Linked DNA regions of Homo sapiens: regions 2 and 3 are each linked to region 1. The links come from fine-mapping of genetic effects on gene expression. A gene starts in region 1. Each other region holds a variant in brackets. All regions are shown on one strand. Distances are from middle to middle. Region 1 holds the start of HRK (harakiri, BCL2 interacting protein). Region 2 overlaps RNFT2 (ring finger protein, transmembrane 2). Region 3 overlaps FBXW8 (F-box and WD repeat domain containing 8).

Region 1 (10,223 bases):
CAGCCTCCTGAGTACCTGAGACTACAGGTGCACACCACCATGCCCAGCTAATTTTTTTTTTTTTTTTTTGGTACAGACAAGGTTTCACCATGTTGCCCAGGCTGGTCTTGAACTCCTGGGCTCAAGTGATCCGCCCACCTTGGCCTCCCAAAGAACTGGGATTACAGGACTGAACCACTGGCCCGGCCTGCACTGGACACTTTAAATGAATGTTCTCTTATCATTCTCCCAATAACCCTGGAAGGATACAGCTCCAGTTTACAGATAAAGGTGCAGAGGTAATGGTTCTTTCTCAAGGTCACGCTGTCAGCAAATGGCTGGACACTTAAGAGTCTCTTAACCATTATTCTCTCCTGACCCTTCTGGCACTGACTTCCCGGGAGGGCAGGTAGGAGTGGTGTGGAATGGCCAGCAATAATAATGGTAAAATGTTGACTACCTTGGGAAAGAATGATAGTAAATGCACAATAATAATCATGATGGCTCACATGTATATCCACTGTTCTAGAGCTTTCCGTGTATGAATTCATTTAACCCCCTTAATAACGTGCCTATGCACTAAGTCTGGCTGGTGGGCCCCCATTTTTTGCCCCCATTTTACATATGGGAAAACTTAGTCTTGGGTTTTTGTTTCTGTTTGTTATTTTTTTAAAGGATGACTTCTGAGAAAAGTATTGCTGGTTCGCAGTAGAGACTCAAAACAAGTATGCTGGATATATGTATGTGTATATACACATATATGTTTTAAATTATTATTGAGATGGAGTCTCGCTCTGTCGCCCAGGCTGGAGTGCAGTGGTGTGATCTCAGCTCTTCTTGGCTGACTGTAACCTCCGCCTCCCAGGTTCAAGCGATTCTCCTGCCTCAGCCTCCCGAGTAGCTGGGATTACAGGTGTGCACCACCACGCTCAGCTAATTTTTGTATTTTTAGTAGAGATGGGGTTTCACCATGTTGGCCATGCTGGTCTCAAACTCCTGACCTCAGGTGATCCACCTGCCTTGGCCTCCCAAAGTGCTGGAATTACAGGCGTGAGCCAACCTGCCTGGCCTGTATGTTGAAAATATTGATTCTGCATATAGCGGAGCACACCCTTTAAACCTATGGGAATTGAAAGTGGTAGTTCCCACCCTATATGGCTGGCACAGGCCTCCCTCAAACACCTAAGGTACAGCTGTGAACATTCCCCTTTTTCTTTTAGGGTAGGGAAGGTGGAGAGCACCCCATATCCAGCATAGAACGCAACAGACTGTCTTCCTCCGGTGATTTTTCTTTCCCCTTTACTTAACTTACCAGAGCTGGGAAAAAATGAGTTTCCCCAAATTAAATCAAAAGCACAAGAAAGGCCGGAGCGGCTGGTATTCTGAGGTCAGATGTAGGCTGCAGGGAGAGAACTTGATCAGGGCCAGTGCAGGGAGCCCGAGCACTGAGAACCCGGCCTGGGAGCGCAGGAAGGCGGGTGGTGAGCAATTCTACGGGTGTCCCGAGGGTATGAGGGGCGGTGCTGCTGGGAAGCCGAGCGGGGCATCCTGAGGTCAGGGCGCCAGAGGCTGCAGAACCCTGGAGGGTGTGGCTGCAGGGGACGCCCGGGCGGGACAAGGCAGGTAGGAGAAGAACCCAGAGGTGTGGGAAGAGGGTGTCTCCGAGTCAGGGCGCAGCACGGAAGTAACTCTGGGGTAGAAGGCGAGGGCGGGGCGGGGGAAATAAACTCCACAGAGACAATAACCTGCTGCTGCCCCCCAACACCGACTCAAAACAGCGAAACTCCTGGCCGCCGCCCTCCCCTGCAGCGCAGGCCCCAGTTACCCAACTCCTCCCCTGCGCTCCGGCGCAGAGCGGCGCAATCTGCCCGCCCCGCCCGCAGCCTCCCCTTCCAGGCCCCGGGAGCATTCCCACCCCGACACTCACACACCGGCAAACAGGAACACACAGTCAGGCTCCGGCCCGGAGTCCTCGGCCTCCCGGGAGGGGCACCCGACATCCCGCACGCCTGGTGCCGGAAGGGGAGAGCGTTTCCAATCTCCTGGACGACAGAACCAGAGAAAGCCGTGTCCCAGCCCTCTCTCCACAGTTCTATTTGATTTTACTACCTTCCTCTCTTTCCTTCTCATTCACTTTTCAATTGTCTTGCAACTTGTTTTCCAGGCAGTTTCTCTTTTTCTCTATCCTCCCCAAACTTCTTGTCCCTCCCCATCTCGTCGCTTGTTTTTTCTCTTCCTCTTCGCCCACTTTTTTTCTGCCTCTTCCCAAATTCCACGCTTTGGGCTTCGCGTCTGTCGCTCAACTTCCTTTTTCTGCACCCCGCGATCCATCCAAAATGTTCTTCCTGTCCCTGGGATTGGGCAGCCTCAGCCTGGCCCCTTTCAGTCGCGGGAGCCCCTGGCCTCTCCAACAGGAGAGAGAGAAGGTAGGGAGAAGTGGATGGGACCCCCGGCGCCCGGGAGCCGGGCAGAGAGCGCCCCGAAGCGCGCATTTCTCTTCGCCAGCGCCCGGGCTGCGCGGGCCCACGCGACATCTGTCGCCTGCGGTCCCGGCTCACACCCCGCGCACCCCCGCAGCTCCCTGGGCGCTGCCACCCCCCACGCTCCGGCTGCCGCCTTTCCCCGCGGGCGCAGACGCTCGGGCCTCGCCTTCAGGCGCCGCTCCAACTTCCCAGGGTGTCTGCGGCGCGCGGCGGGGCTCGGGGGCGGGGACCTAAGGGCGGCTGGCTATGTCACCTTCGAGCTTCACCTTCCGGCCCTAGACCCATCTATGGTGGGCTCAGCCTGATTCTCTCTCCCTCATTCTCTGCAGCGCTCCTCGCTACTCCAGGATCCAGAGTAGTAAGACGATGCTTACGCTGTGTGCTTCCTCAAAGCGCCTAGCACAGTGCCAGGCGCACAGCTAGGGCACAATGATCCCCCCACCCCAAGAGCCTAGTACCTTCCTCCCACTGATACCAACCACACTAGGTGCTCAGTACCCACTTCCTGTCCTAAGTTCTCAACACATGACCTCCCTAAACAGTGCCCAGCACCCCGAAGGAGCTCAATAAATGTTCCTTCCTTAAGGCTTCCCATTGGAGTTTCCCTGAAAGCCCCCTATTCCAGCCCACTCCGAGGGCGTCTCCTTCCCGTAGCAGCTACAACCGTCTGGGGAGAAGGAAGCCAAACTCCTTAAACAGGACACCTCACTCGAGAAGGAGCGAAGTTGGCAGGGCAGAGGAAAATTGCAAATGCGCGGAGCTTGGGAAGAAAGATTGGGCCAGCCAGAAACCTGGAGGGGGAGGAAGTCTCGAGATGCGCTTGGGGTGCCAGATAATGGGGATCAGAGATTGGAGAAGTGACACTTAGGGACAAGAGGTTGGGAGCAAAGGTGATGGAGACGGGGGCGACTCAGGAACGGCAAGAGGATTGGAACGGGACCGGGGACCTTTCTTGGAAGTGCGATAGATTTTAAGTATTTGGCGTGGCTTACAACTACATTCCCATAGCAAGCACACTTTTTACTTGCATTGTGTGTTTATTTGTGGGGCTGGTGGGGATTATGGAGGCTGAAGTCCTCCGCAAGCCACTGAGCTATAAGTGAGTAGCAAGATGCGCTTAAGGACTCGCAGAGATGGGGGCAGAAACGGTGGACCTTACACTTGGAAGGGAAGACTGGGGACTGGGTAGAAGAGGAGAGGTGGAGATGCTTGCAAGAGAAGAGAACGGAGGAAGAAGGAGAAGGGAAAAGAAGAAAGCCAAACTTGCCACTCTCCCGCTCCCGGGCCAGCCCAGCGTCTCCAGTGCCCAGCTGCCGCGCCCCGGCTCTCGCTCGCTCGCTCGCGTACCTGTTGCTCGCTCCGGCTGGGTCTCGGCTCCGGCCCCACCAAGAAGCCCCGCGTTCCTACAAGTTCCGCCTGCCGAGCAGCCAGGCCGCCAGCGCCGCCACCTGCGCGGCCGCGCACAGCCAAGGCCAGTAGGTGGGGAGCGCGCCGGGCGCCGGCGCCCTCCGGCTCCGCGCGCGGCGCCGCCACATGGTGCGCTGGTGCAGCTCGTCGCCTAGCGCCTTGAGCCGGGCGGCGGTGAGCTGCGCGGCGGACGAGCGCAGCCCCAGGCGACCCGCGCTGCAGGCGCACACGGCCGGGGGGCCGCGGCCGCGGTGCAGGGGGCACGGGCACATGACCGCTGGCCTCGCTCCCGCCCCGCGCTCGGGCCGCCCCTCGCCTCCTCTCCCTCCGGCCTCTGCGCCCGCTGCCGCCGCGCTCCAGCCGCCGGGGGCCTCCCCTGGACACCAAGTTTCTCCTTGTGTTGTGCGTTTGTTGTGCTGACGGCGCTATTATTAATTAAAGTGTCACATGGTGGAGGGGGGCGGGGAGGGGGGTTACATCATCCGGCCCCCGGGGGTTGGGGGGGGGGCTGCAGGCAGAAGAAACCGAGAGGTAACTTTTAACCCTAGCGGCGCCGGCAGCTAGGGAGCGCGAGGTTTGGGAGACGGGGAGCGCGGCGCGGGGCGGCGCGAGAAGGCTCCCCGCAGCGGAGGTCCTGGGCTTTGGGGGTCTCGGGGGACCCCCGCGGAGGCGCGGAGCGCGAGGGAAGGTTGTTCTCCTTCCCCTTTTCCTGAATTCAGCTCGAGTTCCGATTTGGCGAGGGAAAAAGGCTTGTTTGCCGTTTTGGATGAAGCTGATGCTGAATTCGGCTGCATTATTCAAAAATATTCCGAGGCTGTTGTTTTGTTTGGGGGAGGTGGGTGGATTCAAAATCTTATGGAAGGGTCAGATTACACCCAACTTGCCTCGTTTCAGGTCTGACTTGGCACCTGTAGGCTTTCAGCCTGACCCTAACGTGCCCCCAGCGCCTGGCTAGAAACCTGACCCTAAAGTGCCCCCAGCGCCCGGTGGGAGGCTGGATGGGCCCACCTGAGCTCGCGTGGGGCGCGGACGGAGGCATTCTCGCTGCCCGGCACCCGCACCCAAAAGACCCTCGCAAGGGGCTTTCTAAAGGGAAACTTCTTGTCTGCTTTCTTTGTGAACATTATTTTCCTGATGGCGTTACAGTTTTCTGCGATGACCCCGATTTAATGCGCAGTGGAGACCCTAAGGGGTCGGCGAGAGGAGGGGCGCGGGGGACTTTAATTCCCCCTTTTCCAATCCGACAGCCACTCCTGTGCACCTCCAGACTGGAGCGTCTGCAGTTGTCACAAACGGTGAAGGTTCAGATGGGCTGGGCGGCTGTCAGGATTCTGTGGGGGAGAATGAAACCTGTGATCTTAAATCGACTGGGATTCAGACAACTTTGGGATTCAGACCATCGGGATGAGTCCAGAGATGGCTCCAAGTTGGGAGTCTGGAACCTGCTGAGGGAGCTTCCGTTCTTGCCTTCCCACCGCAGAGTATAACCAAGATTCTTCGAGTCTGTGAACTTAGTTTTGGTCTGAATTGATCAGGAGGAGAAATGTCCCTTTTGGCCCACAGCGTGGTGAAATGACAACAAAGTCAGGGCTCAAAGCCCACAACACTGTGTGATTCTGGTGGCCTTTTCCCTCACCCAGCTCCAATTATTCTAGGCTTCATAATGGCCAAGACCTACTGCGCATCTTCTATGTCTGGCACCTGTGGGCTTTGGGCGCCCTTGCCTCTGCTGCCTAAAGGTAAATCTCCCAACAATTCTACATGCAATTACTATAATATTTCAAAGATGAGGAAGCTGAGGCACAGGTAGGTAAGGGTTCTTGCCCTAGCTCACAGAGTAGCTAAGAATGAAACCGTCATCTGAACTAGGGCAGTATGCCGCAGGCTCTAAGCTCTTAACCACGGTTTTATACTGCCCCCTGTAATCTGGGAATAATAATACCTCCATCCCAGGATTGGGGCAGAGATTAAATGAGAGAAATGTGTGCCAAGCACCTGGCACGCAGTGGGCCCTGGATAGACCTTGGTTCCCTTTGCTTCTCGCCAGAACCACTTCCCATTCTCCTGGGACTCACCTCCTTAATCCCCCTAGTCTTTACAGAGGGGACCTGATCCATTGCCCGGGTGTAGCGTTCCAAGAATGAAGACACAGTGTCTATTTAAAAAGCCCTTTGGATTTAAATTGAACAATTCCCTCCCCCCATTTTTAATCTGCACGCTTTTAACGGCTCACTTCATGGACATTAATTTTAATGGGACGATTATTACCCTGTTTGGAAGCCTGCCCCTCGAAATGCTGGGCTCGCAAGGTGGCGCTGGGTCGGGTCCCAGCAGCTTGGATGTTGTCTGTAGAAGAGGGGGTGCAATCTTGGCCGTGGGGATGCAACGTTCAGCAGAGGGGGAAGAGAAGGGGGTGATGAAAAAGTGGGAGAGAAGGAAGGACCTCTCTCTCCCTGACACTCTTAAGTCTGGCAGTCCTTAATTTGCACACATGAGTTATCCTGTGCTATTGGACCACTTACTAACTGGGGAGCATGGCCTTGAGAGGTGGCTTTTTGGAGCCTCCATTCTCTCAACTGTAAAGTGGGAATAATAATAGTACCCACCTCCCAGCCTAAATACCAGGAAAGCCCTTACTTAGCACAGTGCCTCCTGGCCCATCATTAGGTTTTTTGTTTTTTGTTTGTTTGTTTGTTTGTTTTTTAGACAGAGTCTTGCTCTGTCACCAGGCTGGAGTGCAGTGGCACGATCTTGGCTCACAGCAACCTCCACCTCCAGGTTCAAGCGATTCTCCCGCCTTGGCCTCCCCAGTAGCTGGGAGTACAGACACCCGCCACCACGCCCAGCTTATTTTTGTATTTTTAGTAGAAATGGGGTTTTGCCATGTCGGCCACGCTCGTCTCGAACTCCTAACCTTCAGTGATCCTCCTGCCTTGGCTTCCCAAAGTGCTGGGATTACAGGCATGAGCCACCATGCCCGGTCCCATCACTAGCATTTAATAAATGTTGACTACTGTTAATATTTTAGAGTGGATCATGTAGTTGTCAAATAGTGTACTTTGAAGAATGTTGGGGATCCACACCCTCAAATATATATAGTTCCCCTATTGTGAATTGGTGATTCCATTGCTGATATTAAGCATTGCTCAAAGAAAGCAAATTCTTTGGGAGGGTAACATGTCTCCTAGCACTTTTTAAATTGTCTTAATTTTTATTAAAAAAAATTTTTTTTTTAAATGGTGTTTCTCTCTGTGGCCCAGGTTGGAGTGCAGTGATGAGATCATAACTCACTGCAACCTCCAGCTCCTGGGCTCAAGCAATCCTCCCACCTCAGCTCTGGAGTAGCTGGGACCACAGACACACACCACCACACCTGGCTAATTTTAAAAAAACTTTTAGAGATTTTTTTGGGTCTTGCTATGTTGCCTAGGCTGGTCTTGAACTCCTGGGCTCAAGTAATCCTCCCACCGCAGCCTCTCGAGTGGCTAGAACTAGAGGCGTGCACCACCGTGCCAAGCTTCTCCTAACAGTTTAGTAAAAATGAGTTGTCGATTTCAATGTTTAACTTAATAAGCACTTATATAGTGCTCGCTCTGTGCCAGGTGCTGTTCTAAGTTCTCTAGACACATAACTCCTTTAATTCCCCTAATAACCCTATGAGACAGATACTATTGTTAGCCCAACGTTATGTATGCATAAACCAAGGCAGAGGGGTTAAGTAACTCATCCAAAGTCACACACCTGCCACGCCCCAGAGTTTGAGCCCTTTAGAATTAGGGTGACAAATGGTTACTGGGGACTTGGGAAGAGGGAGGGAGGCTGTAGTGGGATGAATTCTGTCCCCCCTGCCACCGCTCCACCCCAAATTGATAACCCCTGGAACTTCAAAATGTGGCTATATTTGGAGATAGCATCTTTAAGTAATTAAGTTAAAATGAGGTCATTAGGATGGACCTGAATCCATTATGACTGGTGTCCTCATAAGAAGAGGAAATTAGGACACAGACACAGACACACAGAAGGAAGACCATGTGAAGACAGAGGAAGAAGGCATCTACCAGCCAAGGAGAGAACCTAGAACAGGTCTTTCCTTCACAGCCCTCAGAAGGAACTAACCCTGCCCGGGCCTGGTGGCTCACACCTGTAATCCCAGCACTTTGGGAGACCCAGGCGGGTAGATTGCTTGAGCACAGGAGTTCAAGACTAGCCTGGGCAACATGGTGAAACCCTGTCTCTACAAAAAAAAAAAAATAGCTGGCATGGTGGTGTGCTCCTGTGGTTCCCAGCTACTCAGGCGGCTGAGGTGGAAGGATTGCTTGAGCCCAGGAAATCAAGGCTGCAGTGAGCCGAGATCATGCCATTGTGTTCCATCCTGGGTGACAGAATGAGGAGTGAGGCCCAGTCTCAAAAAAAAAAAAAAAAAAAGGAACCAACCCTGTCAACTCATTGAACTTGAACTTCCAGCCTCTAGAACTGTGAGAAAATAAATTTTTGTTGTTTAAGCCCCTGAGACTGTGGCATGTTGCTATGGCACCCCTAGCAAACAAATATAGAGAGGAACAACATCCTAAACAGGAAGCTAGAAGCAGATATTTCACCAGACTCTGGCTGCTTTTACTGTGGGGCACATGTGAGGACATTTTTCTGTGTTCTTGGGAAGGATGGGTTCTAGGACTGTTTGCCTGTTCCTCTTTTTTTTTTCTTTTTTTTTTTTTGAGACGGAGTCTTGCTCTGTCTCCCAGGCTGGAAAGCAGTGATGCAATCTCAGGTCACTGCAACCTCAGCCTCCCATGTTCAAGCGATTCTCCTTCCTCAGCCTCCCAAGTATCTGGGATTACAGGTGCCCACCACTGCACCTGGCTAATTTTTGTATTTTTAGTAGACACGGGGTTTCACCATCTTGACCAGGCTAGTCTCGAACTCCTGACCTTGTGATCTACCCGCCTCAGCCTTCCAAAGTGCTGGGATTACAGGCGTGAGCCACAGTACCCGGCCCCTGCCTGTTCCTCTTCTTCCTCATTGGTGTCCTGTTGGAGATCTTTAAGGGAGGAAGAGTTTTAGGAGATTATTTTGGAAAACAGTTTGTGGAACTCCAGTTCATCATACAGGGAAAACTTTTCTACCAGTTGCAAAAAATGCAACCTCTTTCTCATGAAGTAAAGAAATGGGAAAGGCTTTCTAGTCCATGAATGTTTCCTGTGGTCTCCCGGCTTAAAACCAGGCACACAGCAGGCACTCAAACTTTTTTTGAAATATAGACTCAGGCCGGACTCAGTGGCTTACACCTGTAATCCTAGCACTTTGGGAGGCTGAGGTGGGCAGATTGCCTGAGCTCAGGAGTTCGAGACCAGCCTGGGCAACATGGCAAAACCCTATCTCTACTAAAAATACAAAAAATTAGCCGAGTGTGGTGGTACGCGCCTGTACTCCCAGCTACTCAGGAGGCTGAGGCACGAGGATTGCTTGAACCTGGGAGGCTGAGGTTGCAGTGAGCTGAGATTGCACCACTTCGCTCCAGCCTGGGGAATAGAGTAAGACTCTGTCTCAAAAAAAAAAAAAATTAAAAAAAAAGAAGTAAAGACTCAATGAATGAATGAACAAATAGTAAGCATCCTGATTTGTCTCTCGCTTCCTTTTTTTTTTTTTTTTTTTTTTGAGATGGAGTCTCACTCTGTTGTCCAGGCTCCAGTGCACTGGCGTGATCTCAGCTCCCTGCAACCTCTGCCTCCCAGGTTCAAGTGATCCTCCTGCCTCAGCCGCCCGAGTAGCTGGAATTACAGGTGTGCTCCGCCATGCCCAGCTATTTTAGTAGAGACGGGGTTTCACCATGTTGCTCAGGCTGGTCTCAAACTCAAGTGATCCACCTGCCTCGGTCTCCCAAAGTGCTGGAATTACAGGCGTGAGCCACCACTCCTTACCTGTCTTTCTCTCTTTCAAACATATGCAGTGATATATGTACAATCGTTATGATCAAGTGTGTGTGTGCGTGCATGTGTGTGGATTCTTTCCCTAAATTATTCTCTTAACTCCTACAGAAATCAGTACTCAAGTGTATTGAACAGGAAGGGGTTGGGTATTTCCTTTCTTTAATTAAAACAATAATTACCTATCCTGGTGTTTGAGACCGAGTGAGCCTTACCTTATGGTGTTTTAATTTGTGTGGCTTGGTGGAGTGGTAAATGAATGAACAGCTGTTGACTCCTCCAAACAGCTGTGTTTCCTGAAGCCATGTATTAAAGCCAGGGCCAGATTCAATGCCAGGAGCCTGCTTGGTGAACAACAGAGTTCTTGAATTGAAATCAGAGATATAGCAGAGTTTGACACTTGGAGCCAGAGAGACCTGGGTTTGAACCC
Region 2 (10,223 bases), 33 kb before region 1:
GTGGCCAGGGTACCCCTGGGGGTTCCTTTCAGGGGGTCTGTGAGGTCAAAACCATTTATATAATAATACTAAGACATTATTGGCCTTTTCACTCTGGTTCTTTCATGAGTATACAGTGGAGTTTTCCAGAGGCTGCATCGCCTGCGAGGAGGTCATCACTCTGGTGGCTCATGAATATGTGCTTGTGTATTATGGGTTTTTTTTTTGTTTTGTTTCATTTTGTTTTTCAGACAGAGTCTCACCCTGTAGCCCAGGCTGGAATGTAGTGGCACGATCTTAGCTCACTGCAACCTCCACCTCCCAGGTCACGGTTCAAGCAATTCTCCTGCCTCAGCCTCCCGAGTAGCTGGGATTACAGGCACACGCCACCATGCCCAGCTGATTTGTGTATTTTTAGTGGAGACAGGCTTTCGCCATGTTGGCCAGGCTGGTCTTCAACTCCTGACCTCGTGATCTGCCCACCTTGGCCTCCCAAAGTGTTGGGATTACAGGCGTGAGCTACCGTGCCTGGCCATTATGTTTTAAATATGTCTCCGTTTCTATTTCTAAATATTTCTAATATTTCTAAATTTGTAAATATAGACAAATTTAAACCACATAGACAAAAGCTCTTTGAGGTCTTCAGTGTTTTTAAAAAATATAAAGGGGTCTTAGCACCAGAATATCTGAGAACTATTAAATTAGAAGTGTGAGAGCCTCAGTGAATGTGTTGAATGAATGAGTGAAAAAACTGCTAAATTTCATGGCTATTTCCCATTCACTTAACCAAGTCTATGTGAACAGGGGTTGTGTTGCATTCTCCTATGTAAGTACCTCTTTTGTCCAGGGTAGCATAGTTAAGTCCCATTTGGTTGGTCAATAGATATTTACTGAGCATCTGAGCAAGAACCGTACTCAGCATAAAACCAGGTTCTGCCCTCAGAAAGCTCTCAATCCAGTGGCTGGGCATGGTGGCTCACACCTATAATCCCAGCACTTTGAGAGGCCAAGGTGGGAGGATCACATGAAGCCAGGAGTTTGAGACCAGCCTGGGCAACAAAGTGAGACTCCATTTCCACAAAAAAATTAAAAAATTAGCCAGGCATGGTGGCACGTGCCTATAGTTGTAGCTACTTGGGAGATTGAAGCAGGAGGGTCACTCAAGCCCAGGAGATCAAGGCTGCTGTGAGCTGTGATCGCACCACTGCACTCAAGCCTGGATGACAGAGCAAGACCCGGTTTCAAAAAAAAAAAAAAAATATATATATATATATAGAGAGAGAGAGAGAGAGAGAGCTCTTAATCTAGTGAACAATCAGATGAATTTGCAAATAATTCCTCATGCAATGCTTTGAGAGGGGTTTTCACCAGGAAGAATGGCATAGGAGAGAAGACGCGATCAGTACTTACATTTGCAGGAGACAGTAACAGGATGGAATCGGGGCAACATCATAAAACAGGGGAGACATGATTGCTTGGCTGAGTCTTCCAAAAGAACTGGGCATGCACCCAGCTGGTCAAGATGGAGAAAGGGCATCCCAGAGTGATACTAAAGTTGGTTGGAAGGCTGTGAATAAGCCATGGGTTGAAGGTCATGTGGCACGTCAATGACATCAGTTACTCCAGGGTGTGAGGATGGGGCTGGACGGGAGACGGGCCATCATAGAGGGTAATGGGTGCCATAGTGGGAATCTGTAGAAGCTGCAGGGCTTGCTGACCCCTGGGTCCTGCCCTCCAGACCATGATGAGAATCCAGTATGGTCTTCGCGGCTCTGTGTGGACTTCTCTCCTTTCCCCAATCCCTCTCTCCCCTGCACCCCCAACTACAGCCACATCAGCTATCTTCAAGTGCCTCAAACATCTTCCTATCTCAGGAGCTTTGCACAGGAGACTTCCTTCAGCCTGGAATGTTCTATCTCTATCCCATCCCCTCTCTTCTGCCCAGTTAACTGCCAAATGTTCTTCAGGCTTCGACTCAAGTGTCCCCACCTCCAGGAAACCTTCCTTGACTACCCCTTGGATCAAACTGGTCCCTCTGTCACACACCTCCATAATACCATGGAAATCTCCTTCAGAGCACTGTCTACAATTAGGCACCCACTGTACACCATGCTAGGAATGAAGGGGTTTACAAGAAGCTTACAGCCTGGTATGGAGAGACAGATAATAAACTGTAAACACATAAGATAATAATCATTATTACTATCATAATAGCTAATAGTTATAGAGCACTTACTATTTGCCAGTCATTATTCCAAGTGCCTTCTTTTTTATATTATTGTTATTTTTTTAGACAAGGTCTCACTCTGTCTCCCAGGCTGGAGTGAAGTGGCATGATCATAGCTCATACAGCCTCAACCTCCTGGGCTCAAGCAATCCTCCCACCACTTCAGCCTCCCAAGTAGCTGGGACGGCACATGCCACCATGCCCAGCTAATTTTTTTTTTTTGTAGAGACATATGGGGCATGGGGGTGGAGGAAGTCTCGCCATGTTGCCCAGGCTGGTCTCAAACTCCTGGCCTCGAGCCATCCTCCTGCCTTCGCCTCCCAAAGTGCTGGGGTTATAGGCATGAGCCACTGTGCCCAGTTTCTTTTTTGTGGTTTTGCTTTTAAAAAAACATTTTGTTTAGATTTTTTTATTATTATTTCCTCAAATGTTTCATTTTGAAAAATTTCAAACCTGCAGGAAAGTTGCATGAAACTCTTCTATTCTTCATCCAGATTTACTGATCATTAACATTTTACATTTGCCCTTTTTTTGACATCAATTTTTTTTTCCCTAAACCAGTTAAGAGTAAGTGGTAGACATTTAGATTCTTCATCCCTAAATACTTCAGTGTGCATCTCCCAGGAACAAGGACATACTCTCAGATAATCACAATTCCACTAGCATGCCCAGGATTTTTTTTTTTTTTTTTTTTTGAGATGGAATCTAGCTCACTCTGTTGCCCAGGCTGGAGTGCAGTGGCGCGATCTTGGCTCACTGCAACCTCTGCCCCCTGGGTTCAAACGATTCTCCTGCCTTAGCCTTCCAAGTAGCTGGGACTATAGGCGTGTGCCACCATGCCTGGCTAATTTTTGTATTTTTAGTAGAGACGGGATTTCACCATGTTGGCCAGGCTGGTCTGAAACTCCTGACCTCAGTGATCCCCCCGCCTCAGCCTACCAAAGTGCTAGCATTACAGGTGTAAGCCACTGTGCCTGGCCACCCAGGAAATTTTAAATTAATGTGACATATTATTTAATATATGGTACATATTCAGATGTCTCCAGTTGCCTTCAAAGTGCCCTTTATAGCTGGCATTTTTTTTGCCACCCCTGGGACCAATCAAGACTCATGTGCTGCATTTGGTTGTCATAGCTAAGTACTTTTAACATGTTAATTAATCTTCCAATGAGGGGGTTCTATCCCCATTTTACAGATGGGGGAACTGAGGCACAGACAGGTTGCATTACTTGTCCAAGTTATACAGCCAGAGAACGGTGGAACCCATTGGTCTTTCCAATCTCCCTGCCTTTCTCTCTCTCTCTCTTTTTTTTTTTTGAGGCAGAGTTTTGCTCTCGTTGCCCAGGCTGGAACACAATGGCACGATCTCAGCTCACCGCAACCTCTGCCTCCAGGGTTCAAGTGATTCTCCTGCCTCAGCTTCCCGAGTAGCTGGGATTACAGGCATGTACCACCACGCCTGGCTAATTTTGTATTTTTAGTAGAGATGGGGTTTCTCCATGTTGGTCAGGCTGGTCTCAAACTCCTGACCTCGGGTGATCCGCCCACCTCAGCCTCCCAAACTGCTGGGATTACAGGTGTGAGCCACCGCGCCTGGCCCTCTCTCTTTTTTAAAAAATTTAATTTAATTTTAAGTTCCAGGATGCATGTGCAGGATATACAGGTTTGTTACATAGGTAAACGTGTGCCATGGTGGTTTGCTGCACCTATCAACCCATCACCTAGGTATTAAGCCCCACATGCATTAGCAATTTATCCTGATGTTCTCCCTCCCCCAGCCCCCGCAACAGGCCCCAGTATGTTGTTCCCCTCCCTGTATCCATGTGTTCTCATTGTTCAGCTCTGATTTATGAGTGAGAACATGTGGTGTTTGGTTTTCTGTTCCTGTGTTAGTTTGCTGAGGATAATGGCTTCCAGCTCCACCCATGTCCCTGCAAAGGACATGATCTCGTTCCTTTTTATGGCTGCATAGTATTCCATGGTGTATATGTACCACATTTTCTCTATCCAGTCTATCATTGATAAGCATTTGGGTTGATTCCATGTCTTTGCTATTGTGAATAGTGCTGCAGTGAACGTATGCGTGCATGTATCTGTTTATCGTAGCACTAGTTACCTGCCTTTCCTCTTGACCCTTGTGTTCTATTCTCAACCTAGAAGGCGGAGGGATCGCTTTAAACTGCAAATCATATCAGGTCACTCCTCTGCTCCAAGCCCTACCATGGGCCCCTTACTTCTCTCAGAATAAGAGCCAAAGACCTCACAATGGCCCACAAGTACCTACACCATATGCACCCCTCACCCTCCATCACTTCTGTGACCTCATCTCCCTCTCCCATCCACCCC[A/G]ACAACCCCAGCCCAGCTATCCTCTCCTTCCTGTTCCTCCCGCACATCAAACACAGTCCAGCCTCAGGGCCTTTGCACATTGCTGTTGCTGCTAGAAGTGCTTTTCCCCAAGATCTCATCAGGGCTCACTCCTCACTGTCCTGCAAGTTTTACCCAAATGTCAGTATCTCCGTAAAGTTGTCCTTAACGTCCCAACCCGCCCAAGCCCTCCCTGTTCCTTCTCCCTCCTGCTTTTTGTTTGTTTGTTTTTTGTTTTTTTGTTTTTAGACAGATTCTTGCTCTGTCACCTAGGCTGGAGTGCAGTGGCACAAACTCAGCTCACTGCAACCTCTGCCTCCGGGTTCAAACGATTCTCTTGCCTCAGCCTCCCGAGTAGCTGGGACTACAGGCGCCCACCACCACGCCCGGCTAATTTTTGTATTTTTTAGTAGAGACTGGTTTTCACCATGTTGGCCAGGGTGGTCTCAAACTCCTGCCTCAGGTGATCCGCCCATCTCGGCCTCCCAAAGTGCTGGGATTACAGTCCTGAGCCACCACACCTGTCCCCTCCCCTGCTGTTTCATCTTGGTGCTTCCTACTGATAACTCAGTATTTTGGAGTCGCATTGTCTCCCCAACGCGAGTGCAGGCGCCCCGAAGGCAGGGGTTGTCTGTCTAGTCCGCTGCCCCTTCTCCTGCTCCCGAGACCGAGGCAGACGCTCAGTAAAGAGTCCTGGTGCCTGCTGATTGCTGTCCCCGCAGCACGTGTTCTGTGAGGAGTGCCTCTGCCTGTGGCTGGACCGTGAGCGCACCTGCCCGCTCTGCCGCTCGGTCGCCGTGGACACCCTGCGCTGCTGGAAGGACGGCGCCACGTCCGCACACTTCCAGGTGTACTAGGACCGAACACTGAGGACACCCAGAAGGACGCCAAGGGTCAGCATGCCCGGACCCAGCCCTGCGGGGGCTTCCTGAGAAACAGGCCTCAAGCACTTACATCCTGCCTCTTGCCCTCCACCACCTCTGACCCCAAAGTCCCGCCCCTGTCTTGTCCTTCTGACCTTCATCTTCCTCTCTCGTTCTGTGGTATAGTGCGTGCCTCCTTCCCCTGCAAAAGGGGACGTCTTCCTAACTCAGACTTGATGCCCTTCTAGATGCATCTTCCTTCTCCACTCCAAGTCAAGGACCTGGCAATACATGAAGTTCCCACTTGTTGGTTATTTTCTCTTTCTTTTTTCTTTTCTTTTCTTTCTCTCTCTCTCTGTTTCCCTCCCTCCCTCCTTCCTTCCTTCCTTCCTTTTTTTTTTTTTTTTAAAACAAGGTCTCGCTCTATCACCCAGGCTGGAGTGCAGTGGCACAATCTCGGCTCGCTGCAACCTCCACCTCCTGGGTTCAAGCGATTCTCCTGCCTCAGCCTCCCGAGTAGCTGGGATTACAGGCACCCACCAACACACTTGGCTAATTTTTGTATTTTTTAGTAGAGACAGGGTTTTGCCATGTTGGCCAGGCTGGTCTCCAACTCTTGACCTCAAATGATCAGCTCGCCTCAGCCTCACGAAGTGCTGGGATTACAGGCATGAGCCACCGTGCCCAGGCTCACTTTTTTTTTTTTTTTTTTTTTTTTGAGACAGGGTCTGGGTCTTCACCCAGGCTGGAGTGCAGTTGGCACAATCACAGCTCACTGCAACCTTGAACTCCTGGGCCCAAGCCATCCTCCCGCCTCAGCCTCCCAAGTAGCTGGGACTACAGGTGTGTGCCACCAGGCCTGGCTAATTTTTTTTTTTTTTTAATTTTTAGTAGAGGCGAGGACTTATTATGTTGTCCAGGGTGTTCTCAAACTCCTGGGCTCAAGCAATCCTCCTGTCCTGGCCTCGCAAAGTGCTGAGTGCTGGAATTACAGGTATGAGCCCCTGTGCCCAGCCCACCTGCTGGTTATTTTAACTTAGTACCTAGTACCTAGGACTTGATGGTGCAGGCTGGGGAGGAGCCTAGAGATCACTGCCTCCCAGATAGCCCAGGCCTGCAGATTAGAATCCCTGTGAGCCCTGTGAAGTATTTTTTCTTTTCTTTTCTTTTTTTTTTTTTTTTTGTTGTTGTGAGACAGAGTCTTGCTCTGTTGCCCAGGCTGGAGTGCAATAGCACGATCTTGGCTCACTGCAACCTCCGCCTCCCGGGTTCAAGTGATTCTCCTGCCTCAGCCTCCCGAGTAGTTGGGACAACAGATGCGTGCCACCATGCCCAGCTAATTTTTTTTTTGTATTTTTAGTAGAGATGGGGTTTCACCACGTTGGCCAGGCTGGCCTCAAACTCCTGACCTCAAGTGATCCACCTGCCTCAGCCTCCCAGAGTGCTGGGATTACAGGCATGAGCCACCACACCTGGCCCAAAGTATTTTCAAAATACAGTTGTTGGGCCCCACCATATACCTGTAATGACTTAAGGTCCCAAATACTTCATGCGCAGCAGGCAAAGCATGCAGCATCCTGCTTGGATTACGTGCTGTCATCCTCACAACAGCCCTGTGATGGGGGAGGTACTGTTGGGTCCCCTGTTTTATAGATGAGGAAACTTGGGCACAGAGCTTGGTGCGGTAACTTTCCCAGGGTCACCCAGCCAGCATGGGCGGGCCAAGTTTCCAACAGAGGCCTGGTACAGTTTCAGAACCCACATCTAAAAAAAAATAAATTTATTAGAGATGAGGTTTCTAATAAAAATCCAGGTTGTCCAGGCTAGATTCAAACTCCTGGGCTCAAGTGATCCTCCCTCCTCAGCCTCCCAAGCAGCTGCAACTACAGGCACACTCCGCTATCCCCAGCAGAGCCCGCACTCTTAACCTCCGCACTGCTCTGCCCCTCAGACATTCCAGGCATGGGGCCCAGCAGACACGGTCTTCTAAAAGCACACGAGAGGCCGGGTGTGGTGGCCCATGCCTGTAGTGCCAGCATTTTGGGAGGCTGAAGCAGGCGGGTCACCTGAGGTCAAGAGTTCAAGACTAGCCTGGCCAACATGGCAAAACCCCCTCTTTACTAAAAAATACAAAAATTAGCCGGGCGCGGTGGCGGGTGCCTGTAATCCCAGCTACTCAGGAGGCTAAGGCAGGGAGAACTGCTTGAACTCGGGAGGTGAAAGTTGCAGTGAGCCGAGATTGCACCACAGCACTCCAACCTGGGTGACAGAGTGAGTGAGACTCTGTCTAAAAAAAAAAAGAAAGAAAGAAGGGAGGGAGGGAGGAAGGAAGGAAGGAAGGAAAGAAAGAAAGGTCAGCTTTGGCCCAGATGTGGTTACCCCTTGGTCTCCTGTCTTTATGTCTTTCTCCTCTTCCTATTCTGTCATCTCCCTCACTTAAGTCTCAGGCCTGTCAGCAGCTCCTGTGGACATTGCCATCCCCTCTGGTAGCCTTCAGAGCAAACAGGACAACCTATGTTATGGATGTTTCCACCAACCAGGGTAGTGGCATGGAGCACCGTAACCATCTGTGCTTCTGTGATCTCTATGACAGAGCCACTTCTCCACCTCTGAAATGTTCCCTGCTCTGAAATCTGGCATGAGATGGCACAGGTGACCACGCAGAAGCCACCAGAATCTTGCCTGCCCTATTCCTCCTCCCAAGTCTGTTCTCTTATTGTCAACCTCAGCACAACAGGCTGGCGCCAATGGCATTACAGAGAAAGCAATCTGTGTGGCTAGTGGGCAGATTACCATGCAAGCCCCAGGAGAAATGGAGGAGCTTTGTAGCCACCTCGCTGTCAGCCAGTATTAACATGTCCCCTTCCCCCTGCCCCGCCGTAGATTCAGGACATTTGCCCCTGTGTGCCACCAAACCAGGACTTTCCCCTTGGCTTGGCATCCCTGGCTCTCTCCTGGTACCCAGCAAGACGTCTGTTCCAGGGCAGTGTAGCATCTTTCAAGCTCCGTTACTATGGCGATGGCCATGATGTTACAATCCCACTTGCCTGAATAATCAAGTGGGAAGGGGAAGCAGAGGGAAATGGGGCCATGTGAATGCAGCTGCTCTGTTCTCCCTACCCTGAGGAAAAACCAAAGGGAAGCAACAGGAACTTCTGCAACTGGTTTTTATCGGAAAGATCATCCTGCCTGCAGATGCTGTTGAAGGGGCACAAGAAATTGGAGCTGGAGAAGATTGATGAAAGTGCAGGTGTGTAAGGAAATAGAACAGTCTGCTGGGAGTCAGACCTGGAATTCTGATTCCAAACTCTTTATTACTTTGGGAAGTCACTCAGCCTCCCTGTAGCCATCTCCAGGGTGACGGAACCCAGTGTATTACCTGCTGGAACCAAGGAAACTAACAATGTAGGTTACTAGTGAATACCCCAATGGTTTCTCCAATTATGCCCATGCCACCAAAACAATAAAACAAAATTCTCTAACACTGCAAAGAGTGAGCCATGCCTGTTAACACTGTAAAGAATGTAACATGTGGGGGACACACAGGGGCAGATGGGATGGTTTAGTTTAGGATTTTATTAGTGCATGCCCTACCCTCTGGGGGAACGTCCCATCTGAGGTTTTCTTCTCGGTGGGGGGATTTAACTTCTGTCCTAGGGAAAACAGTGTCTGATGAGGAGTGTTTCCAACACAGGCTACATGAATTCCCCTATACCAGTGCGAAAGCAGCCAGGAGTCCCCGTTGGAAAAGAACAATGCCACTCTCTTTTATGTATCTTGGTTCTGCAACTCATTTGTTGTAAGTAGGGTTAATCGAGTATCAGGTTCACAGTATCCTGCCCTTATTATTTTATGATTCACTGACTCAAGTTCCACGAAGTCCTTAGAAATGGACCTCTTCATGTAAAATATCTTGAGAATAATAAATGTGAGGGAATAAGAAAGGCAAGCTTTGGACACAGATATGATAGGTGCATCAGCTTCGGAAGAGAAGAATGATGTGCAGAGTGTTAGGAAGACATCCGGGCTGCTGAGACTCGGGATTAGAAGAAAGAGAGGTAAATAAAGTGGGTCCTGGAATCTTTTAGGACTTCTGCTGTAGGACAAACAGCTGCCTTTGGTGTTTTAATGTCTCCCAAAGTACCCTTCAGCCAATAAATACCATCTGTTGGTGCAACTTGTGTTTGTGGTCTTGATTTTCCTTTCACCTCTTGAAGCCAAGTGCAACTGTCTTAGATCAAAGGAGAAGAAGCCCTTCGCGGAGTGGGTGGTTGTCTTATGTTGGTTTCTCCTAAAGCAGATCCTGTTCAGGTGCATGTGATTTATTACAGCAGTGCTCCCACGAGAAACCAGTAAGGGAATCATGAGTGAAATAGAACAGGGAAGGGAAAGAAGCCAAGCTCTGGCGAACTCTCAGTCTTAGCCGGATCCCCCAGGGAGCTCAGGAGCATAAGTTTCATCTCAGAGTTTGTCCCATCCCACAAAATACACACCAATTGATACTTGGCACTGGGCTGATGGGGGGACTTCCTGCACTTCAGACTCTCCCCTAAGAGGCTCCAAGGGGAAGCCTCTGAAGGCCCCAGATACCAGCAAAGCACACGAAAGTGCAGGATAGGAATCTGGCAAAAGGGATCAGAAAGGGCCTCTGTGGGGCACTTACAGTGCCCACTACAGGGGCTAACTGGAGGTTTTGCGGACCAAAAATGTATAGGCTGATTCAAGAAGGGTTTTCCAGGGCGCCAGATTATGATAGATATTTAAATGTAGATTAATAGCACGAGGTGACA
Region 3 (10,223 bases), 66 kb after region 1:
TCTCTGTATATTGGGGTACTGCTTCACCATTCTAGCAGCTTACAGCTCTGCCTTAGCCTTCACTTCCTGCTTGTGCAGAGCCTCAGGGTCAGCCAGAGGGGAGAGGTTAGGGCCTTCTCTGGTCTTTCCTGGGCACACACATAGCCCTATACATTCACGTGGCATTCCAGACTCCCAGGAATATATTGGAGCCTTTCAGAGCCTCCTATGGACATCCCATTTCCAAGCTTTTTCTTTCAAGCTTTTTGGTCAGCCTCTAACAGCCCCAGCTAGCAGTGCCTCCTCAGGCAGCTGTAGAGTTAAGCAGTTGCCACTTACTATTTTGGGTAAATGCCCTGGAGATAGGACAGAGACAGTGCTCAGCCAGCTCAGATAAAGACAAGCCTTGAGAATAGAGCTTTCTGGCAAGCTGCCAGCCAGGTCAAATGGTGACAGTTCTCTGGGGATTTGATTTTTGGGGACCTCTAAACTTGTCTGGCCTCTCTAATGGCTGCTAGGCTGCCGGTTTTTACAGCTGCTATCTTCACGAGGTTGTTGATTTTTAAGGCAATCCTGGAGCTGGAAGAGGAAACAGAATTAGCACACATTAAAACAACTTAGACGTCACTGTTCTTACTGAGATTTAGCCACTTTTCTTGGATAAATGTTCCTCAGAATGTTGCAATCCTTTTGTTAATTTCCAGACTCCGAAAAAGTTGATCGATCATTTTTGGTGGAATTCTTACTGCTGTTATGGAGGAGCAGGTCTTTGGAGGTCTTTAATCTGCCATCCTGCAAACTAACTCTCTGTCAGTGCTTTATCAGCTGAGGCCCTTTGTGCAGTAAGAATCTGGTCTCCTACTTTCTCTCATTTTCCTTCTTTCCGTCTCTGTCTTTGAGTCTTGAAGTGGCCCTAAGGGAGTGTTAAAGAGTACAGGGTACTGTAACCTACCCGCTACCACTCTTCATTAGAAGTGAGACTCAACTTTTGGATGGATGGCAAGCATCAGGCACTTGATCCTGCATTCCCAGAATGCTGTGCAGACCGGGATCACGCTGATCTGCTCGATCAGTTTCTCATCTGCCAACAGAGTCCATCTTTTGCAGTCTGGCCAACTTTGCACATGATCCTGTGATTAAGTAAACCTTTTGTTCCCCTAAATTAGTGTTGGAAAACAAAATGCTAATAGTTAAAATGGCCATTTCCTCTGGATACTGTTGGGATTTGAAAGTCAGGCCAGACATAACATTAATTTTTCTAGATCTAATCTTACAGTCCTGGATAATGGCTTGAGTTTTCTGTTAATTAAATATATACATATGTTTAAAATCTAAATTCTCACATGCAATTTAAATTTGAATTTTTTACCTGACCAGATGTTTGGGTTATAGGTAATTTTATGACAGCCTTTGATTTTGGAGGCCATCAATCTTCAATTCTGTAAGGTGGAAATACAAATGCTTTTTGTCAAAAGTAAAGAGATTCCATTCTGAAAAGCTCTGTATGATTGTATAGCTAATTACCATGTAAAAGTTTATATTTTTTGCATTTTATGTATTTGTGTATTTTCTTCTCTTATTTGTTAGATTACAATATAACCAAGTAGTCTAAAATGTGATATTACATGGTGGTACAACAATTTTGAAATCTTGAAAGATAAAACTGGAAACATTTGCTTGTATTTTTTTTTCCACCTCATAGTGTTTTGTTAATGAGACATTTTATACTGCCATAAACCCAGGGCAATAATATAGGTGTTGATTGATTTTTGGATGACAAGGGGCTTCTCTAATTGCAGAATTTGACATTTGTGTCACTTCTGCTGTTTTAGGTGAGCAAGACGTGGAAGGTGATTGCAGAGGATGAGGTGCTGTGGTACAGGCTGTGCCAGCAGGAAGGGCACCTTCCGGATAGCAGCATCTCTGACTATTCTTGCTGGAAGCTCATCTTCCAAGAGTGCCGAGCCAAGGAACACATGTTACGAACCAACTGGAAGGTGGGCAGTGGCCAATATCATTACCTGTGAAAGAATAGCCTGCAAGGACATGGGAATCCAAGCTTTCACTCATAGCCTGAGATTAATTGCCAACAGCGAAGGGAGAGGGGTACACTGAGCCTCCCCTTCAGCTGTTGGTGACTTGTTGCCCATTTTGTTCACCATTAGATGATCTGCCTCTGTTTTCAGCCTCAAGATTTGGGAACATCCTCTTATTCTGCAGGAGAGGAAGGGTGAGATTGGGTTGCCAGCCACTTCCTCTCGGATTGTTAGGGTGGTCAGAGGAGTGCTCTGTGCAGCCCCTTTGACTTTCACCGACTCTCTGGAGGGACCCAGAAAGCAAAAGCACTACCTGCATACAAAAGAGGAGCTGAAAATGTCATTTCTAGTAAATGTAAGAGGGAGATGATTAAACATCTCTAAGCACTGTCTTCTCTTCCCTCACATAACCTATTGGCGTGCTTCCATAACATTTATCACTTCAAAGTCTCTACGGAAATATTAGATCACAGCTAAGAATTTGCACAGTGAAGTGTTTCCATAGGAGATAACTGTCAAGAGCCGTGTTACATAAAGCTGTTTGAGGCATGACGAGACAGCAGTGTGGTGGCAGTGTTTCTTTCTCACCTGGGAGGCTGGAGATTCAATGGTAGAGAAGGGATGGAACCATTCTCTTTACTCCCATAAAGGTCAATCCTAATAGACTTTGAGATTAACAAGCTTTTGTGCATTACTGATAATGACAAATTGCCTATGTGCCTGTCTGTCCCTACTCACCTCCTAACCTGATTAGTGACCAATACGCTTGATCTGGGCAACCTCACACGGTTTCTAGCAAAGTCAATAAGAGCAGTGTCTCTCTAGTTCAGGGGTTCTCAACCCCAGCACTAGTGACATTTGGGGCCAGCTAATTCGTTTTGTGCGGGGCTGTCCTGTGCATTGCAGGCTGTTGAGCAGTATCTCTGGCCTCTCCCCATTAGACGCCAGTAGCATTCTCTTCCTCCCCCAAGTCATGACAACTAGAAATGCCCCTAGACATTGCTGGATGTCCCCTGGGAATCAAAATCCCCTCCCAGTCGAGAACCACTGTTCTGAGAGTTAGTGTGGCTATCCTTTCTTAGGCTGTTAAGACACCACCACTAAGACAGGTCACGCTGGCCCCACAGTGCCCTTTTCCATCCACCTACGGTAATAAACTCGTCTGGAGGGAGCCCCCAGTCCCTCTTGCCCGTGTGCCTGGGTAGGTCCATGTGATGCACACAGGCAGAAAGGTATGACAAAGAAAGCTGCCCAGATAAACAAGGGGTCAGAAAGCAGAGGGTCTAACCCTGGTGGGAGGGGCTGCGATTTAAGGAAAGCTTGAGAGCTGAATGTTAACGGGGTCCTTTCTCTCCAGAAAGGAGAGATACTTTTGAGATTTACAAGCAGGAGAGTTGGAGATATTTGGCATCCCCAGGCTTGAATTCGAAGATGTCAGACCGTGGTAGAGAAAAGCAGCAGCTGTGTTTTTTGCTTCCTCTTTGGTGATAGAGAAAGCAAGGGAAGAGGACAGGTATGTCCTTGTTGGGCCTGGAGGTGGCAGAAGTGACGATATTTTAAAGACCCATCACCTAGCATTTGGCACTTAGTAACACTTTACAAGTTATATACAATCTAGCTGAATGTCTATTTAGTATTTATTTCTAATGAACAGGAAGTCATGTGTTAGGTAAGTACTCACTACATGGCTGTTGATTGAGTGAACTGGAGCGGACTGCAGGCTGAACCAAACATGAGGGAGACTTCTATTTGGAGCGTGTAAGGTCCATTTCCTGACAGTGTTAACAAGGAGAATTCTAGGAGTGAAATTTTAAATGATGTATCTTTCATTAAATGTAATGGTGGGATTCTTACCAAAATTCTGGAATGAAAGAAAGCCTTATCAAAACATGAAAGGCGGCCCGGCACCGTGGGTCACTCCTGTAATCCCAGCACTTTGGGAGGCTGAGGCGGATGGATCACTTGAGGTTAGGAGTTCCATGGCCAATATGGTGAAACCCCATCTCTACTAAAAATACGAAAATTAGCCGGGCGTGGTGGCACACACCTGTAGTCCCAGCTACTGGGAGGCTGAGATTGGAGAATCGCCTGAACCCTGGAGGTGGAGGTTGCAGTGAGCCAAGATTGCGCCATTGCACTCCAGCCTGGGCGACAGAGCGAGACTGTCTCAAAAAAAAAAAAAAAAAAGAAAAGAAAGAAAGAAATGAAAGGCAGTGTTGGGGCAAGTTGCTTTACTTTTGTCTGCCTCCATTTTCTCATCTCTAGAGTAGGGGCTAGGAGTGGCACTGCTCATGGCGTCATGGTGAGGATGATCGTCATCAAGTGTCTGCCACTCCTGCAGAGCCTGGTCCACGCTCAGTGCTCAGGCGAGGTTGGCTGTAGGAGAGCATAGGCCTCTGCACACAGATGCAGGGTTCTGTGCTGTGCGTGCTCGACTTCAGGATGGGTTAGGCAGGC[G/A]ATTTGGTTTGGTACCTCTTAAGTCAGTGTCTGGGGAGACCCTAGAAGGGACCCCAGGGTTCTCAGGTACCTCCACAAAGAGAATGGCCTGCAAATGCATGAAGTTATCTGGAATTGCATTTCAGAGCCAACCTGGAAATGATTTGCTAAACTAATTGTGGTGGCCATAGTGTTTTTTTTCCTAGTGTTTGCATAAATGCAGGTTTTCATCTTAGGCCCTCTATTTTTCTTTCAATACTTTTTCCCTCACAAGAGATTTTCTGTTATTGTAACCTTGGTTGCGGCCTTCACACAGCTGACTCCCAGATCCTTGCCTTCCCTCCCCATATCTCCACTTGTAGGACAGCTCCACGTGGATGTGTCTAGTTTTATCTCTCAGCCTTAGACTCATTCCTTGGATTAAGTTAAGACCATCATGCAAATTACTTTGCTCAGTTTCTAGAGTCTAGGTACTTAATAAATGTGTATTTTAATGGAATGATGTCATCTTTTTCCTAATAATAGAAATAATAATAATAATGGCTACCACTTATTGAACACTTGCTGTATGTTAAGAACTGTGCTGGGCACTTACACTGTTTCTAGTCTTTGTCCCAGTCTGGTAAAGTTGAAATTATGGTATTCTTGAATACCTTTATTCATGCTTGCTTTGTGGCCTATCTCACTTTTCCCAACCTCCCACATGTAAATACTTTATGTGCATTCAGATTCCCTTCATTTTAATTCAATTTAATTTTTTATTTTTTTAGAGATAGGTTCTCACTCTCTTGCCCAGGCTGAAGTACAGTGTTGCAATCATAACTCACTGTAGCCTTAAGTTCCTGGACTCAAGTGATCCTCCTGCCTCATCCTCTCAAATAGTTGGGACTACAGGTGCATGCCACCACACCTGACTGTCTTTTAAATTTTTTGCAGAGATGGGGTCTCCCTGTGTTGCACAGGCTGGTCTCAAAACTTCTGAGCTCAAGTGATCTTCCTGCCTCTGCCTCCCAAAGTGCTGGGATTACAGGCATGAGCCACTGTGCCTGGCCTAGACTGTCATTCAAATACCATTTCCATGAAACCTCTGGCCTCTCAGTTAGAAATAGTATCATCTCATCTCCTTTTCCTCATCCTGATCTTTATCTATTTGTATATAATTTTGCATTTTATTCTGAGAGTCCTTATAAGAATTAACAGGTAAGGTATCATGTAATACTTTCTTTTTGCTGAACGGAACTTTTTCACATACTTTATAAGTTTCTTTAGATACTTGCCACTCCCAGCAGATACATGCCAGCCTATTGTGGATGGTAGTTATTGGTGAGCACATATTTGCTTTCTATTCTGTAACCTCCTGGAGGATGGGGCAATGTCTCACACGTCCTGTGTCCTCGAGTTCAGTGCCTTTGGGATATATGGTAACTCGCCCATGCTTAACAGCTTAGCATGTTAGTCATCATCTTTGTCTTTTTGAATGCCCATGGAACTTTGAATGCACTTGTTGTCCATGCTGTAGAGAATTGCTGTGGAAAGTAGGTGAAAAAGCACGATGCTTGGCTTTCGGGCTGTCCCGAGAGCAGTCTAAACTGCATCCCCCTTTTCCTCACGCAGAATCGCAAAGGTGCCGTGAGCGAGCTGGAGCATGTTCCTGACACAGTTTTGTGTGATGTGCATTCTCACGATGGTGTGGTCATTGCGGGGTAAGCCAAACCGTTTCCACTGAGTGCTCTGCATCTGAAGGTCTTTCATTTTTCTCATACCACCCTCTGAGTACCAGTGACCTTAGCTTCCTTTGAGAGCATGTACCTCCCTCAGTTACAGCCCATGTGGAAGAGGGAGAGTCTCCGTGATTCTGTTCCCAAGGACGTGAGAGCGCGCAGCAAGGGTGAGAAGCACATGGTGTAGAGCGGATCTGTGATCCATTTGTCTCAATATGTCTTTCCCAGCTTTTAAATCACTCTTGTGGCATGTTATGTGAGATTTTCATTAAGGCAAACAGTTTGTATTTTATGAAGACATAAAAAAGTCAAGCAAAGATAATAAGTGTTGGCACAGACAGGCCCTGTTCTCATTCTCTTTTTCTAAATCCCTTATTGTGAAGAAGGGCTTTGGCCACACATAATCTTCCTTCCCCACCATATAGTACCTATTTGTTACTTAAGTTGTCCTGACATTGTTTTTTTTTTTCTCCATGGCCAACACATTTAATTTTAGCTTCTGTAAATTCCTTCAGCTTCTGTCCCAAAAACCACTTTGATGAAGTCTTCCTACTTTGTTACAGAGGTACATTTATATATTTATTTACTCTACAATAAGATCAGTTTTCTTTTTGGATTAGGAAGATGTCATGAACTACAGCCTCAGACTGTATACTTAATGCCATAAAGTAGAAAGCAGAACACTTAAATTTCTTAGTTTGGATCAGCTATGGAGTGAGACGCCTTAGGGAACTTCCTGCCTATGGGAAAATAAAACAAACCTTGGACTTTAAAACTCAGTAGTAGAGGAGTCCTTTTCTTTAAAGAAAAATCTTTCTTTAAGCAGCATTCCTTAAAGAGCACCTTTTGAATAGAAATTCCACACAGTCGGATTATTTTAATATTTTGTGGCATGCAGTGCCTATGAAAAAAAGTATTTCTGCTTTAAACAAGATGTACCCAGGAGGCAGGCTTTTCTTCAGTTTCTGTTTCACTGGCTATGATTTAGAGGTGAAAGCCCTTCTTGGGAGTGCTGCAGAACTAGTTTTAGAAAGGTTGATGGTCCAGATACTTGCGATTCTGTCCATTAAGTTATCGATGCTCGTTGCTAAAATGTGGGCCTGCGATCAACTGATATGCAGCTCCTTTCTACCCACGGATGCTACAGTTTGGTGTGAACTCCGGAAGGTACTTAGATCATTCCAGCTTAAAGGGATCTCTGCCTAGAGTGTCAGAAGACACTTGAGGACAGAAGGCTGAGACTGGACTGAAAGAGTCGCAAAAGAACTTAAAAATAAAGGAGAGCCTTGACTCTCAAAGCCAATTATGAATTTCTTCTCTGGAGCTCCCGAAGGGCAGGCCCCCTACGAGTCCAGATGCCAGTCCTTCTCTCTCTGCCTCTCTGTTCCCTCGGGGTCTGTTCAACATTACAGATTATGCCAGCACAGAGCACGATGGCCACGTTCTGTGGATCGATAGGATGAAACTTGATCTGTGGGTCGAGAGGCTCCTGGTGGCTCCTCTTTCTAAGAAAACCTTACGTTGATGGCTTAGCATGAGAGACTTCAGTCTTGCTTGTATGTAGAGCATCTTGTGTTTATCATTAAAATTTTATCTGGTGGTTACGATGCTTGTTTTCTGGGTCAGATCTTGAATCCCTTTTCATTTGAGACAGCGGTGTTTGTGGTTACCTCATTCCCAATCAATGTTGAATTCACCAGGCTTTCTACAGTTATGTATCTCCAAGGAGCTTCTTAAAGAGACAGTGGCCAACTCACCCCTTCTTTCTCTTGTACTTACCTCGTGTTTCTCTTATTCTTCTTTTTTCCTTCCCTTTTCTCTTTCTTTTGCACAAGTGGAGTCTGTTCAGAGGCTTAGTTTTATGTACCTAGAGCTAAACTATGAAGCATTTTTGCATTTACACCTATTAAGTACATTTCACATCATTGATGGAGAGCAGAATCTCTTCTTCTCACCTTTTCAGCTCTCTATGTAAATATTCCTAGTTTGGGGCCATGCTGCATAGGCCCAGACTGATATTTATTGCAGTGAACCTCATGATGGACCCAGTCATGGTTCTTCCCTACTCTCCTTTTCACATAAAACCAGTGAAATCTGAAAATAGTCACTCGTTGATAAACGCATTTGACACTCAAATACCCATCATGTGAACAGGACCTGGTGCCTGTCTCCCTGAGGCTTGTTTTTCCAGTGGGGAAACATTCTTTCCAAAGCATTTGATTGTTCACTCTTTTGTCCGTGAGTCTTTGCTTACTCTACAGTCTTACAAATAATTTCTAGTTAACTTTTCCTGACATTCAAAGCTCTTTGACATTTCTTTCCAAGCTACCTTTTTCCTTATTACACTTTTCAAGTGTACCTTTGTTTTTTCCACACTGTTCTATTTAGTTACCTCTGACTGCATCATTTTTTTAGTTAAGATACAGTCATATGCTGCATAACAGCGTTTTAGTCAATGATGGGCCCCATATATGACATTGGCCATTCATGTACCCTAGGTGTATAGTAGGCTCTGCCACCTGGGTTTGTGTAAGAACACTCTGTGATGTTTGCACAAATGATAAATTCACCAAAGGATGCATTTTTCTGAGTGTAACCCTGTCGTTTAGTGACACGACTGTATAATTCATATGCCATAAAATTCACTCTTTCAAAGTGTACAATTCAGTGATTTTTTCTTAGTAGATTTACAAGGTTGTGCAACCAACACCACTATCTAATTCCAGAACATTTTCATCAACTGGAAACCCAGAACCCATTCTTTAAGGCCTACTCCAGTCCTGTCTCCTCCCAGAGATTTCTCTAGCACTGTAGCCTAGCGTCCATTCTTCTCGGAACTCCTAGAGACGGGACCATCTACAGCTGACAGGGCAACTCATCGTGTGGCCTTGCTGTTTCACTGAAACATTTTTTGTTTTATATTATTATTTTACTTAGAAATAATATTTAACTTTACAGCCATCTACTGTATTTTCTTTCCAGCAATTTGTAAGCATCTTTTTAAAATTTACATTTAAATTTTTATTGTTTTGAGACACAGTCTCACTCTGTCGCCCAGGCTGGAGTGCAGTGGTGTGATCTCAGCTCACTGCAACCTCCACCTCCCAGGTTCAAGCGATTCTCCTGCTTCAGCCTCCCGAGTAGCTGGGACTACGGGCGTGTGCCACCACACCCAGCTAATTTTTGTATTTTTAGTAGAGATGGGGTTTCACCATGTTGGCCAGGCTGGTCTCAAACCCCTGGCTTCAAGAAATCAGCCCACCTCAGCCTCCCAAAGTGCTGGGATTACAGGCGTGAGCCACTGCACCCGGCCTGTAAGCATCTTTTAAAACCATGAGTGGTATGTAATATTTTGTTAAATGTATACTGTTTTATATGGAGTAAGCATTAAAACTTAATACACAGACTCCCCTTGTCCCCTGCCACCTATATATGATGTTATATGGGAAACTAGAGAAATGCCTATGTCTGTTCTCTACTTTCTTAGTTTTCTCAGTTTAGAATCATACATTTTTAAACCTGGAAGGAACTTTAGAGATGATGCGTTCCAAGACCCTCATCTTGCTTGAGGTGGCAGAGGCTCAGGGCCAGGCTGGGTGTGCGTGAGTGGAGCCGCTCCGCTGTGTTTCTGCAGCATCCACAGGCAGGGCTGGCTGGTGAGGCTGCCGTTTCCAGCCCTCATTTGCTGCTCTGAAGCTTTGGCTATTATAGCATCATTTTGGTTTTTCTTTTGTGGCATGTGTCTATTTAAAAACAAAAGCAGCCGGCTGGGCGCGGTGGCTCACGCCTGTAATCCCAGCACTTTGGGAGGCCGAGGCGGGCGGATCACAAGGTCAGGAGATCGAGACCATCCTGGCTAACACGGTGAAACCCTGTCTCCACTAAAAAATACAAAAAAATTATCCGGGCATGGTGGCGAGTGCCTGTAGTCCCAGCTACTCAGGAGGCTGAGGCAGGAGAATGGCGTGAACCCAGGAGGTGGAGCTTGCAGTGAGCCAAGATCGCGCCACTGCACTCCAGCCTGGGCGACAGAGCAAGACTCCATCTCAAA

Evidence for each region. PIP is the estimated chance that this variant, and not a neighbour inherited with it, causes the effect.
Region 2: its variant is the best candidate, but not a certain one, in a credible set for the expression of HRK in whole blood (INTERVAL, PIP 0.64).
Region 3: its variant is the best candidate, but not a certain one, in a credible set for the expression of HRK in whole blood (TOPMed, PIP 0.51).

The regions. Positions count from the first base shown.
Region 1 is chr12:116,877,167-116,887,389 of GRCh38, forward strand. It overlaps HRK (harakiri, BCL2 interacting protein), which reads right to left and starts at 4,275. Exons shown (of 2, transcript NM_003806.4): 1 at 3,810-4,275. The coding sequence starts at 4,141. The coding sequence ends at 3,866. RefSeq lists silencers at 2,804-3,004, 3,883-3,962 and an enhancer at 4,468-5,429.
Region 2 is chr12:116,844,022-116,854,244 of GRCh38, forward strand. RNFT2 (ring finger protein, transmembrane 2) reads left to right here. Exons shown (of 11, transcript NM_001382266.1): 11 at 5,293-9,610. The coding sequence ends at 5,427. Among named protein-coding and RNA genes, the nearest start is that of HRK, 32 kb to the right of the region's middle. The variant A/G (reference allele first, on the strand shown) is at 4,553.
Region 3 is chr12:116,943,553-116,953,775 of GRCh38, forward strand. It overlaps FBXW8 (F-box and WD repeat domain containing 8), which reads left to right. Exons shown (of 11, transcript NM_153348.3): 3 at 1,812-1,976; 4 at 6,066-6,154. Among named protein-coding and RNA genes, the nearest start is that of FBXW8, 38 kb to the left of the region's middle. The variant G/A (reference allele first, on the strand shown) is at 4,473.